Linked DNA regions of Homo sapiens: region 1 is linked to region 2. A link means that fine-mapping ties the variant in region 2 to the expression of a gene that starts in the linked region. Tissue or cell type: whole blood. Region 2 holds a variant in brackets; the other region holds the start of a gene. All regions are shown on one strand. Distances are between the middles of the regions.

The links. PIP is the estimated chance that this variant, and not a neighbour inherited with it, causes the effect.
Region 1: STK17B starts here. The variant in region 2 is fine-mapped to the expression of STK17B in whole blood (TOPMed, PIP 0.97).

The regions. Positions count from the first base shown.
Region 1 is chr2:196,169,690-196,173,929 of GRCh38, forward strand. STK17B (serine/threonine kinase 17b) reads right to left here and starts at 1,889. Exons shown (of 8, transcript NM_004226.4): 1 at 1,644-1,889. LOC101927454 (a long non-coding RNA gene) reads left to right here and starts at 1,850. Exons shown (of 2, transcript XR_923737.2): 1 at 1,850-1,942; 2 at 2,216-3,159. RefSeq lists silencers at 1,215-1,434, 1,955-2,184.
Region 2 is chr2:196,266,353-196,270,592 of GRCh38, forward strand. The region is part of intron 17 of HECW2 (HECT, C2 and WW domain containing E3 ubiquitin protein ligase 2); the gene reads right to left. Among named protein-coding and RNA genes, the nearest start is that of HECW2-AS1, 8.4 kb to the left of the region's middle. The variant T/C (reference allele first, on the strand shown) is at 2,343.

The DNA.
Region 1 (4,240 bases), 97 kb before region 2:
GATTAGTCAAACCTCCAACTTCCTAAAAACGCATTCTATCTTAACCAAATCGTAATTCACTAATCAATGATCCCAAGAGAAACCGCAACCATTCTATTCACACACAAAAAAGGATGGTCTTCAATTACAGAAATTCTACTTTTAAAAAGTCTTGCCATGTAAGCAAATATATTTCACCTCAATTTTGGATCCCTACTTTAGAAAAAAAAAAAGATCTAAAATGTACAATATGTATCTCAAAAATAAAACATCTATTAATACCTCCAATTATTAAGATACTAGAAAAAGTTTAATTGAGCATCTGCTCAGAGGAGGAGGATCCGAGGCAGATGAGTTTAAAACTTTTGCACCGCTTCTATGGACCAGTTTTCTTAAAAAATACACAATCCTAGGGGTACACGGTCTAATATTTATAAAATAAGCACTTGTTGAAAATTACTTCCGAACAGTTCACCATAAAACTAAAAAACAGTGTTATCAATGAGAAAGTAGGTTTATTTTCCTTTAATAAAATTGTGCTCCTGGGTTCAAAATGCCAGGTTACATACGCTGCCACTCATTTCTACAGAGCTATGCTGTCTCCGCGCAGACATTCTCATAGACTTGAAAACGTAAAGTGGCCACACCACGTCAAACGTCCCTGGCAAGGTTCTGCTTATCATTAGCACCACAGATGTAAACATTACGTCGACAAAACAATCGGTGAATGTGATACACAGTCCTCATGTGTTTAAATATTAGTGAAATCTGATAAGTATTACGATTTTAAAAACGTATTTTCTTAATTCCAATTTCCAAATTGATGTCAGAGTGCCTCTAGTCCAGACAGAAACTAATGCCAGCTACCAGCTGCTATAAAGCCTCTTTCAACTTTGTCTCTACTTCTCCCTCGGAGGAAATTCAAATGAAACGCTTTTCCCTACAATAAAACAAAGAGCCTGGGTAAATGTCAAAAATCGTTGGCATCCAGTAGTGGTATAGTTTGAGGATGAGTCGTGCACACTAAGTGGGTCACAAGGCATCAAAGCAAAAATCAGATCGCTGAAAATCACGGAAACAGCTGTAGCCCGTCTTGATCTCTCGCTGGTTTTAAAACACTGTTCCCAAGCAGTAACTGAAAACGTCCCACAAGATGAACACGAACTTTCTCTAGACGAAAGGCAGCTGGGAGCAGGACGCGTCCACGAGTCCCGATGGGAACGCGCCCACGCCGCAGCTGGGACTCGGGAGAGGCTAGGGGGACCGCGTGGCCTTGCTGTGGAAGGGACCCGCGCGGGCCCGCCGCGAAGGGGGCCCTGCCTGGCGCGACCTGGGGAGAGCCGGGGCCGGCCGGGTGGAGGGCGCACGGGGACACACGGACACGCACAGACACAGACACGCGCCCCGGGCTGAGGAGGGTGGTGGGAGGACCGCCGGCCGCCCCCCGCGCGGAGCCCCAGGGAACCCGGACTCCAGCCGCAAAGCGGAGAGGCGCCAGCAGCAATCAGCCACCTCAGGGGCGGCGGAGTCCAAGCCCCTCTCAGCCGGACCGTACCGCCTAAACCCTCCTCGGGTCCTCCTTCCTCACGTATGAGGTCTCTGTACCGAGGCGGCTGGTTCCATCGCAGCCCCGAGCCAACCCGCCAATCCCGCAGGACACTAACCGCTCCGGCCGCCGCAGGTTCTCCCGGGACTGCCCCCTCCAGGGGGCCGCTGTCCCGCCCCACGCCGGGGGCCGCCACAGGACGAGTTCTCTAGCTCCAGCCGGGCGAGGCGCCAGGGAGCTCCGAACGTGGCAGGATCCACTTTTACTTTTCCAGACAAGGGCCGACGGTTGTGACCTGGCTTCTCGTGAAGTGACTCCTGGCGACAGCAGCGGAGAGGACTACCGAAGCTTGCAGTCGCGGTTTGAAAACTGCAGCCGCGTCTGGGGCATCGCCGTTCGCCAGATCCCTCCCCCTAGGTCGGGAGAGCCAATCGGAACGGGTGCGGAGGGTGGGTCTGTCACGTGACGGGAGGGGCGGGGCACCGGCCGGGGGCGCGTGTGCGGGGCGGGGCCCGGCGGTGAGAGGGTGCGGCGCCTGGCTGGCCCGAGGCGGGGCGGGGAGGCGCGGCGGCGTGGCGGCGCAGGTGGGGCGCACTCGGGCTGCCGCGAGGGAGGGGCGGAGGGGGCGGCGCTGCAGAGGGGGCGCGCGGGGCTGGAACTACTGCTCTGTGTACTCCTTCCCACCTTCAGAGAGGTCAGTTCGAGAGGTGTGAATATCCGGAGACCGGGGAGAAGGAAGCCGCAAAATTCGTCCCAGCTGCCTGCGACTAGTTACCAAACTTCAGTGCCTACCAAAGACCTATTTTCTGACTCTTCTTGAGAGTCTTCCTTAGGACCGGAACGTACCCTGTAAGTGGAGAACCCAGTTTGCTACAACTTGGCAGAGGTTCCTCGGAGTGTCAACATCAGTTGGGGATTTATGGAACCTAGACCCCACTGCTAACGTCCGCTGTCGCGAATGGTGTCCCTTCTGAGGCACTGACTGAAGGCAGTGTAGGGAGGGTCCCAATAGGCTGAATAGCCGATTTTGCATTTATAGTGCTAAGGAAAAAGATGAAAGCCCTCAGCAACCTACTCAAGATCTGTTATCCTTTGAAGACAGTGGAAATTTTCAAAGTTCTGTGCAAGACACAAATGTTTTACATAGATATATAATCCTAGTTTATATGTATAGGATACACACATACTCATACATATATGGGATTAGTTATGTAATCTAGGATTGCTTTCAGAGGACATTTACGATAATTGCAGAAAACCCTTCCGTGGGAAAGGATACTGGGAGTGGAGTCGTCCTCTTGCTTTCAAAAGACTTAATGTTCAGTTAGCATATAAAGGACAGGTTTTCTTGTTCTATCCCAGTAAGCCAAGCAAATTCCTGTGAAGCTAGCTGTTTCCCTTTCCTACTGCATTTTCCCCAAGATAAAGGTATAGAATGCATCACAGCCCTTTTATGAAGTCTGTTTGTTGTTACTTAGGTTAACTCCTCCTCCCAGGTTAATAATGTCTTGCCCCTAAACCTTGTCAAATGGAGAATATTGCTTCCATCTATCTAATTTCTTGTTGCTAACAATTGGGCTGACTAGAGAAGCCTAAAGTTAGGATGAAAATAAAATGCCACACACTGGAATTAACTTTTCTGGGGTATAAGAATCCGTAAGCAATGAGACTGTTCCCATCTTTTCTTTCATGAGCATAGGTGTTGCATTCCAGAGGTCTCAGCACCAGTACCAAAACTAGTAACCTCTTGGGGGTCACAGGATTACATCATTATGGTGGTTTTGGGGTTGTGTGTTTAACTTTGGACCTCCTTAATTTCAACATTTCATCAATTGCCAGCTTTTAGCAATCTTCTCACACTCACCCCATACTCCCCGTCACTAATCCAGTCCCAGATCACTTCACACCTAGACACAGACTTTTCTCTCTCTGGCACCACTGTAAGCCAGTCCTCTTGGTCACAATACCTCTGCTGTAACCAGCCAGCCTCCTAGGGATATTGTCATGTCTTGCATTTTCCTGCTTCTGCCTTAGCTCCAGCTTATCACCATCCTCCTCATCCATACCTGTTCATCAGTTTCTGACTTTAAGAAGGTTACCCTCTTCAGGAATCAGAACTCTGCTGATTCCTACTTTCTGTTCCCAGCCTGATCACCTCTGCCTTATGTTCTTTGGTGCAGGGCTGATAGTTTGTGTTTCTTTTATGACCCTAAATAGATTGTTAACCCTTGTGCCTGATGTCAGATTTGTTAACTAGGACTTACCACACTATCCCAAGGACATTCAACTACACTTACTTGGTCTCAGGCACTGTGGTTCAAGTAACAAGGAATTCCTGGTGCTGAGGAGGAGGCAGTACATCTGTGGCCTTGCAGGAAAATTCAGAAGTCAATACATTCCTCCATCCACCTCATTTACCTAAACTCATTCATCACCGTGTCAAAGATATATGTTCCTGCTCTCATTCCCTTGAGTAGGAAATCTCCAGGTGACCTGATGGTCATTCTGTGGTCATTGCTTCTGACCACACAGTTCATTAAGTTGACCATCCTTGAATGACACATTCCGACCAGGGATGGCGGTTGTTATGGGCTCAGTTGTGTTCTTTTCCAGTTCATACGTTGAAATTCTAACCCTCAGGAACTCAGAGTATGACCGTATGTGGAGATAGGGCCTTTAAAGAGGTAATTAAGGTAAAATGAGATAATATGAGTG
Region 2 (4,240 bases):
GAAAAAAAAAAAGGTGTCTTTAAAAATTCAATAATTATCCCTATGTAAACTGTCTGTAGGAAAATAATAGTCTCAGTCCAGATTTGCTATTATTTAAGTTTGGTACAGCAAAGATCAGAAGTTTGCCATGTTGGTCCAGACATCTGAGTGATAAGTAAACAAATCAGGAGAGGACTAAGGGAGAGAGCTAGGCAGGTCTTAACAGGAAAATGCATATGGATCATCAGAAGTAAATTCATGCTATTTTCACCAAGTACTTCAGTTGTTAACCAAGACTAACATTTCCAGTCTAATATTATATGCAGAAAAATTCATTTGCCACAAAGCTAGAAAAGAAATAGGTTAGCAATTTTGAACACTAGGGTTTATCTTAAGAAAGATAGCTTTTGAAACTTTAACTTTTTATTAACTAAAATTCTGTATTGTTTGATAAACTTCAAAATGGGCCATTATTTTTAAAATAAAAAAATTAAGAGTAAAATTAAACTCTAACAAAACCCCAGGGCTCTTCAAATAGGATAATGAAAGGAAATAGAAGGTTCAAGTCTGCATTTGCCTCTAGTCTGGTGAATCCTGAGACACATATCCATTTGCCTTTTGTGGTTCAGAATTTCTTGACTCCCAAGTTACTGATTTCCTGATAACATAAAATATGGAATGATCTAATCTACCCAGAATGAAAAAATTATCACAGATCATGTCCTCATGGTGAGGGGAGTTATATAGGAAGCACTCAAGGAGGAAACAGCCTGCTGCCAAAAATAATCACTGGTGCCTGGGGAGAGCTGGACTAGTAGGGAACAGATTTACTGGCTGGACTTAATAATCATATTAGAGGGGAAATTCTCAACTCTTAACTCAGGTTCATGGCCTTTCTCATTACATAGTGCTATACAAACACCAATACTAAAAATTTTATTGAATTTTTAAATGTGCATTACATTCACCTATAAAATACTGTTAAAGGTTGTTTTCTAATGAATATATTTGTATTCGTATAAAATGTTAGAACTTTTTTTCAGCTTTTATTTTAGTGTCATAGCATACAAACATCTTCTTTCAGTGAGAACCAGTAGTAGCATATAATAATGCCATGGGGACACTACCCATTTTACAGATGTGGTACTGACGTTTGGAAGCTGATTTTTCTAACAGGGGAAATAAACATCTCCTGAGGTTTGTTTAAAAAAAAAAAGGACAGCAACTTAGTACCATTCACATTTGCGTGATAAATGAATTTATAGGGAGCAGTGATTTAAATACAGCAGTTGAAAGTAAAAGCCATATCACAATGCATGGAAAACCATAGCCACATAGACAGGAAGACACACCAGTGAAGTCTCAGGGAAGAGAAAACTATACATAGATGCAAACTAAATGAATTGCCTGCTATCCTCTGGCTTAGGATGAATCACAAGCAAACCAAGAAAACACAAAGTAAAGAGGTATACCTACTTCAATCTCTCAAGGGCTACCACTTTTATCATTATATTATGGGAAAAATAAGAAGGAATATTTATCTTAAGTGGTGTGCCACAGATGAGAAAGGACATATGCCAAGCTATGTTGGTACTGGGAGTCCTTGCTCCAGGTATGAATATAAGGTCCACAGTGAACTTTGACACATAGATTACTGAGTGGCTCCATTCCATGTATAAATCTGTTATCAAAAATATCATTGAAATAGGAAATTAAAGAAGTTCAGCCTATTTCCCACCCCTGTGTTTGTGGGAATGCTCCTCACAACTATATAAAACAGAATGTTCTCTTAGATATACAAACTTCCCCTTTACGATGTTATGATAAGCAAAATATTTAACTCCCAAAAACTTGACAGAAAATGAAAGTGCAGTGTGACACACACTCTGGATAGGAGGAGTGGTATTATCTCATTGATTTACTTTTACTTATCATGACAGCATCTGCTTCCCATGGTCACATTCTGTAAAGATGGAAATATATTTCATAGCCTATCAAATAATTGCATAAAAATAGATTACCATGTGAATCCTATGTTAGAAGAAAGATTATGCTTAACTGAGGACTCTAGATGCCACTAAAAAAAAATCTTCAACATCTTTAGGAGATTAGAGACTTTTCAGACTCTAAAAAGCAGAAAGAAAACAAAACAAAACTTGAAGCTACCAACTTGGGCCTGCAGCTTTTCCCTCTGTTAGGATCTGTTAAGATTCTGTCAAGTCATTAAAGACTAATGACAAATGCCCTGTCCAGGTAGATTAGATCACCTAATCTCTCTGATGGTGGAGATTTAAAGATATGTTAATTCGTATTACACACTAATGTGGAACGCAGAGAAAAAGTGAAAAACTTCTTGAGTTTCC[T/C]GTTTTGTGGGGGATGGGGTACACTTAGAGGAACAGATATTAACTAGTGGCATGTGTTGGTTGGAAGTGGTAGAAGAGAGAGAAAATAGAGTTCCCTTTATTTTGTGATTAGCAAAAGAGGAAGAATTTTGTTTGTTTTGCTTTGAGGTCTAGGATTGCTAACATTTCTAATTAGATCACTGAGGGGCTTGTTTCTGCAATTTTTTAGAACTAAAACTTCTTACACAAGATTCTCTAGGGGAACGTGGATTACTGAGTGGATGCCATAATAAACAAACATGCAAAATCTTCACTTGCATAATTATTATAATTTTTCCGTGGTTAAGAACAGCATGCTTATGTTGGGGAAGGCACTAAGAGTTGAGTCAAATGTTATTAACCATGTGAAACCAGGTGAAACTGGGATTTTTATATACACAGTGTTTATAGTATAATACTTGAAATTTTTTGTAGCTTTAGCCTTTACAAACTTTAGAAGGTAATGACAACTTTAAAGACATGAGACCAAGGTCAGGCACAGTGACTCATGCCTGTAATCCCAGCACTTCGGGAGGCCGAGGCGGGAGGATCACCTGAGGTCAGGCATTCAATACCAGCCTGACTAACATGGTGAAATCCCGTCTCTACTAAAAATACAAAAATTAGCTGGGTGTTGCGGTGGGCACCTGTCATCCCAGCTACTCGGGAGGCTGAAGCAGGAGAATCGCTTGAACCCGGAAGGCAGAGGTTGCAGTGAACCGAGATCGCACCACTGCACTCCAGCCTGGGCGACAAGAGTGGGACTCCGTCTCCCCCTACCTCCAAAAAAAAAAAAAAAAAAAAAAAAAGACATGAGACCAAGAATATCGTGAGTATATTTGGTAATTTATTTTCAAATCGACAACTATATACATATATATTTTTACATTCAGTATGTGCAAAATGCTATTCTAGATATTTGAACAGTAAGGAGGAAAAATAATGATGAGTTGGATAAGATCCCTATTTGCAAGGCTCTTAAAATCTAATTGGAAAATAACGCATAAGGACTTGAAAAGTCAAATCAAAACACAAAAGTCATAAAGTCAAACCAGTACAAAGGACAATGTGATACATTTCATGACTCATGATCAAAATAGTGTCAAGACCAAAGGTTATTGCAGCCAACTGTGCCATCAGAATTATACAGAGAGGTTTTGAAAAAATAATTCTTAGGCTCTACCCCAGACCTCTTGAATTAAATTTCTGGGTAGGGCATGGGAGAACAGGGGTATAAATTCTGAGAAGGGAGAGGAATTGGAGGAGGCATGACCTGGCATTTTGTATTATATAAAGCTTCCCAGGTGATACTGATGAAAACAGTTTGGCACAACTTAGTGGATCAGTATTTGGGAATCACTGCTGTGGGCCAGGATGGTACCACCAGGCAAATATACTTCTACCAGTAAAGGTGACAACTGGACTTGGGGTTAAGAAAGATTTTCAGCAGAAACTCTTCTTTTCCTATTCCCACTGATGCCTAGCACACTTAGATAGAGAAATACTAGCCTAGATCATGAAAGTGAGAGTCCACAGTGGAGTTGAAAGATTTCAAGGAGGGAAAGCTTCTGCTGGGTTTTAGTGGAAAAATCTTGCTTCCCAAACTTAGAAGGAGAGAAAAGCTTGCCAGGGAAGGGGAACAGCATGTATTCAGGAAAGTAAAACTGGGCTTGAGAAATGATGTTTTGAAAAGTTGTTTAGAAGAGAGGGCTCATGCAAGGTGAGGCTCAGTTTTAGAGAATATCAGATTCCCTACTTAGGTTCTAATCTGTTTTTATTATGGAAAAATGTGAATACCAAGTCTGGAACTCTATATATCTCAGTTCAATAAACTGTATGCTACTTTTGCTTACTCAAGTTACACTCAAAAAGTTATGTCA